2 separate regions of the Homo sapiens genome follow, and region 2 is linked to region 1. Evidence: fine-mapped expression QTL. Tissue or cell type: unexposed skin. Region 1 holds a variant in brackets; the other region holds the start of a gene. All regions are shown on one strand. Distances are from middle to middle.

Region 1 (2,849 bases):
CCAGATCTGAAGGCTTTCTTTACCCAATCCTCCATCCTCCTTTTTTATCTCTCATAGGTGTACATCCCCATCACCATTCCACCCCCTACACTTCTTGCACTTCCAACTTTATTTCAGTGTCTGCTTCCTGAAGGACCCAAAACTACACAACTCTAAATAGAAAAGCTGGATGTATCTATCAAGGAATCTTATTCTCTTAGAACCAACTATGCCTAGAATAGCCGTTTGTACATTGTGAGTCTTTTTTTTTTTGGGTGGTGGGGACAGAGTTTCGCTCTTGTTGCCCGGGCTGGAGTGCAGTGGCACAATCTAGGCTGACTGCCATCTCCACCTCCCAGGTTCAAGCAATTCTCCTGCCTCAGCCTCCCATGTAGCTGGGATTACAGACATCCACCACCAAGCCCAGCTAATTTTTTGTAATTTTGGTAGACACAGGGTTTCACCACGTTGGCCAGGCTGGTGTCAAACTCCTGATTTCAGGTGATCCGCCCGCCTCGGCCTCCCCACGTGCTGGGATTATAGGCGTGAACGACCGTGCCCAGCCCATTGTGGGTCTTTAGTGTTAAATATAAAAACGCTTTGGAAATATGTGGGAAGTTACACCCTACAAAATTTACATAAGTAAAAAATTAATAGTATTGAGGCCAGGCGAGCTGGCTCACACCTGTAATCTTAGCACTTTGGGAGGCCGAGGCAGACAGATCACTTGAGGTCAGGAGTTTGAGACCAGCCTGGCCAACATGATGAAACCTTGTCTCTACTAAAAATAAAAAAATTAGCTGGAAATCCCTGGAACCCAGGAGGCGGAGGTTGCAGTGAGCTGAGATCATGCCACTACATTCCAGCCTGGGCAACAGAAAGAGACTCTGTCTCAAAAATAAATAAATAAATAAATAAATAAATAAAAAATAAATAAATAAATAAAAAATAATAGCATTGAATTAATTGTGTCTAGAATTAAAGAAGATATTTTAAGTTTAATTATTTCATGCACTAGAAAATGAAGAAATGTGATGATTTATGCATTGAGAAAAACACCAAGGTCACTGTAGATATGGATGTTTTATACATGCTGAAATCTTTTCTCTGATGTAACTTGAGATTAAAGAAGAGACTAAAGTAGCTATTTGGACATTTCTCTATTTAGAGGAACCAATTTTTTTTCTCAAACAGATATCTTCATCTCACAACTGAAAGTCATAATGGGATAGATGGGCAGGACAGAGCAGTTCTCTGAGAGAAGAGCTGCAGCTAGAGTTTAGCAACTATGAGAGACAGAACATGCACTAAAGATACGACCTTCAGATAACAAAGATTCTTAAAATTTCTTTTGAATATTCTTTATGTCTTCTTTTCATGAGACACT[G/T]ACGCAAAAACAGAAAGACACTCTTGTCATAGCGGTGTTGAAAACATATATATAAAGAACTGTCACATGGTATACCAACTCAAATTCAGAATATAACGGAAACGCTACATGACAGACCATCTTACACTATCAGCCCAACATAACCACTCTTCCTGTTTTGTTTGATGGGGGAAGTTATAATGTAATGCCAGAGGTATATTTTATGTGTGTGTATTAGGCTGTGGAAGATTGGTTGACTGGCTTTTGGTCACTGAGTTTCAGATATTCAGTTCTAGAATAATTTGGGAATAAAATTGCTATCCTATAGTAGTTTTGAGCTATTAAGAACTATTTGGTTGAAGGTCTGATATCTTATTCCATTTTTAACTGCTACTCAACACAAGATTTTCCTTTTGAAGTAGGTCTTGGTAGAGGTTGAAGCATTTCCACGATATAATTTCGAATTATTGCCTCTCATAGTCCACCCCAGCATGACCTCTTTCCTGCCAGTTTCCTCTTTTTTTTTTTTTTTTTTCTGAGTCTTACTCTGTCACCCAGGCTGGAGGGCAGTGGTGCAATCTTGGTTCTCTGCAACCTCCACCTCCTGGGTTCAAGTGATTCTCCTGCCTCAGCCTCCCGAGTAGCTGGGACTACAGGCACGTGCCACCATGCCTGGCTAATATTTTGTTTTTTTTCGTTTTTTTTTTTTTTTTTTTTTTTGAGACGGAGTCTTGCTCTGTTACCCAGGCTAGAGTGCAGGGGCGCGATCTCTGCTCACTGCAAGCTCCGCCTCCTGGGTTCAGGCCATTCTCCTGCCTCAGCCTTCCGAGTAGCTGGGGCTACAGGCGCCTGCCACCACGCCCAGCTAATTTTTTGTATTTTTAGTAGAGAAGGGTTTTCACCGTGTTAGCCAGGATGGTCTCGATCTCCTGACCTCGGGATCCGCCCGCCTTGGACTCCCAAAGTGCTGGGATTACAGGCGTGAGCCACTACGCCCAGCCGCCTGGCTAATATTTTGTACGATTTTTAGTAGAGACGGGGTTTCACTGTGTTAGCCAGGATGGTCTCAACTTCTTGACCTGGTGATCCACCCTCCTCGGCCTCCCAAAGCGCTGGGATTACAGGCGTGAACCACCGTGCCTGGCCCAGTTTCCTATATTATACATCCTCTTTCCCAAATTATTTTCTTCCTTACTTTACAAATTCTCAACTTTCTACTTTTTTTCTCTGAACTTCCACGTCTTTTCCACAACCCTCTACTCCCAACTGAGGGTGTTGCCTACTTCTCCGGGAAAATAGAGACTACCAGAAATAGCTTATCTTTTGATTCCCAAATCTTTTTTTTTTTCATCCTTTTTTTTCCCTCACTCTGTCGCTCAGGCTGGAGTGCAGTGGCATGATCTTGGCTTACTGCATCCTCTGCCTCCCAGGTTCAAGCGATTCTTGTGCCTCAGCCTCCCGAGGAGCTGAGACTACAGATGCCCACCACCACACCCAGCTAATT
Region 2 (2,674 bases), 120 kb before region 1:
CACCCTTCTATAGAGGTAAAATTGCCTTGCTGAGAAAATTCTTTGAGCGCTAGTTCTTCTTTTTGGCACCAAAGAACCAGCATTTGTTTCTAAGAGAGCCTTATTGTCAAAGGAAATTAAGAAAAAGCATTACACTTATTCATACATGTGCATATATGTACATATACATATTGCAGAAAAGTATGATAGGGTGAGCAAAAAAAAAAAAAAAACCCTCAAGCAAAACAATGGGGTAATTCGGTGGGAAAAGTGAAATGAAAATCAAATTCAAAGAGGAAAAGAAATGAGTAAAATTTCCCATTGTTGAAGAGTTTTATTTTAAATGAAGATGGTGGATGTTAAATCACTACCCTATTTATATTCCATTGCATAAATCTCAGAGTGACTTAATATTTTCATTTATAAATATCAATATTTTCAACAAGCCAGACATTACAAACTTGGCAACTACTTAAACTTAGGATGAAACAAAAATTAGATAACAATTTCATTCTTTTAAGAGCTACAAAGAGGTCTAAAAAAAGGTTTGACCTCTGAAAAATTAACCTTAAACCATCTAAGTGTCCTTCCTAAAACTCAAGTCAAGCCCAGGTAGCTTCAGTGGCAAGCAACGAGACCACTAGTTAAAAGACCCTCTTCTTTTCCTACCCAACTTCAACATTCCCCCGTGCCGCTTACTCCCGCACCCAGCAGCCGCCCACTTCTGGTCCTCAGCAGTCCCCTGACCCCTCCTCTCCCGCTCCCCCACTTCCCTCCCCATTCCCGTACTTCCGCCCGTCCAAGTCCTCGGGCGCATGCGCGTTTCGCCTCCCTCCCCGCCGCCGCTGCTGTGTCATGGCGGAGCGGAAGTCCCAGCCACAACGGGAAAAGGCATACTTTAGGTGGGAGGCGCTTCTCACAGCTTTCTCCCCTTCCTCCCATAACCTTTTTGATCTCCCACCGTAGAGGGGCCTCCTACCCTGCACTCTTCCGAACACCTCGTAGTCCACGGATTTGAGTGACTGGGCGGTAGACATGGCGGCGGCGAGCCCTCTGTTGAGGAGCCGGAGAGGGGCTCGGGGCGCAGCGACTGCGGCGGCTGCGAGAGGGAGGGGACACATGGGACTGCTTGGCGCACCCCGCGCCTGTCACCGGTCCCGGACGCTAGCGCGCCGGGGTCACGCGTCGGAAGCGGCAAATGAGACTGCGGGGCCTGGGAGCGAGGGCAGCCGGGGACGCCAGGAGGGAAGAGGCCGCTGGGCCCCAGGCATCCTAGGCCTCTCTTCCCGGACTGGGGAGGATGCTGTCTCCACAGCGCTCCCTACCATTTAATTGATCAAGGTACTCTGTTCTCAAAGTTAGTAAATAAAAGCCGGATGCTGTGCCCAAAAAAAGAGTGGCTTCCCCCAGCTTTATTAAAGTGTAATTGACAAATAAAAGTTGGGTATATTTGTGGTGTACAAGGTGATGTTTTGACATATGTATGCATTGTGAAATGATTACATCAATGAAATTAACGTATCCATTGCACCATTTTTTAATGAAGAGAACATTTAAGATCTACTCTCATCAATTTTTAAGGACACAATACATTTATCGCAGTCACCATGTTAGACAACAGATCTTCAGAACTTATTATTCACACTAACTGAAACTTTGTACCCTTTGACCAATATCTCCCCATTTCCAACCCCTTTCATCCCCCATCCCAGGTCCCCCACCCCACTCCATCCCAGCAAGATTGGCTTTTGAAATCAAGGGCCTGCGTGTTTAGTGTTTTGAGAGTTAGTAAATTATTTATGAAATGTTTAGGTGACTACCAAGCCAGCTTTTAAGATAAGGTCTGCAACATCTTGAGCTCTTCTGTACAGTCAGGAAGGAATTGAGCCTGAACTCGTATTCTAAACGGATTGTGATATTTTCTGGGATAAGAAACTTTTTAAAAATATGAAGTCTTTTATGCTAGTGGAAACAGACAAAAGAAAAACACTGTAGTCATCTTGTCTGCTGTTCATACAGTTTTTTTGGTGTGGGTTTGTTGCTGTTGTTTTGAGACGGAGTTTCGCTCTTGTCTCCCAGACTGGAGTGCAGTAGTGCAATCTCAGCTCACAGCAGCCTCCACCTCCCAGGTTCAAGAAATTGTCCTGCCTCAGCCTTCCAAGTAGCTGGGATTACAGGCATGCGCCACCTCACCCAGCTAATTTTTGTATTTTTAGTGGAGACGGGGTTTCACCATGTTGTCCAGGCTAGTCTCAAACTCCTGACCTCAGGTGATCCACCTGCCTCGGCCTCCCAAAGTGCTGGGATTACAGGTGTGAGCCACCACACCCGACCTTTTTTTTTTTTTTTTTTTTTGATTGTCTTGATTATTCTCAGCAACATCCCAATTGCCTAGAAGGTTAAGGCTGAATTTTATTTCCTGGTGAGCTATTACCAAGTTTTAATATAAAACCATCCACCACTCCAAAGGATCTGGATACAGCTATTGATAATCTGCCACCTTCTAGAATTCCAAATCTGTTTACTTGTGAGAATTTGCATTTCTCTATTTGTTGGCCTCAATACCTTGGCATATTTCTCTGCATCTGGCCACACAGTTAAAATAATCCACTGCAATCTGATTCAATATACTGTGCCAATTCTATTAGAGAACACCAAAAATCATCCAAAACTTGGTTAGAATATGGTTAAATCA

Which allele goes with the higher level. Positions count from the first base shown, and alleles are read on the strand shown. Sizes are in standard deviations (SD) of each study's normalised expression.
As copies of T replace G in region 1, the expression in unexposed skin of the gene that starts at base 1,100 in region 2 goes down (small effect, 0.30 SD a copy in GTEx).

Evidence for each region. PIP is the estimated chance that this variant, and not a neighbour inherited with it, causes the effect.
Region 2: it holds the start of ACYP2, and the variant in region 1 is fine-mapped to the expression of ACYP2 in unexposed skin (GTEx, PIP above 0.99).

What each region holds. Positions count from the first base shown.
Region 1 is chr2:53,993,546-53,996,394 of GRCh38, reverse strand. It overlaps a transcript of ACYP2 not described here. Among named protein-coding and RNA genes, the nearest start is that of PSME4, 24 kb to the right of the region's middle. The variant G/T (reference allele first, on the strand shown) is at 1,367.
Region 2 is chr2:54,114,041-54,116,714 of GRCh38, reverse strand. It overlaps ACYP2 (acylphosphatase 2), which reads right to left and starts at 1,100. Exons shown (of 4, transcript NM_138448.4): 1 at 959-1,100. The coding sequence starts at 1,016. RefSeq lists silencers at 652-711, 1,202-1,271.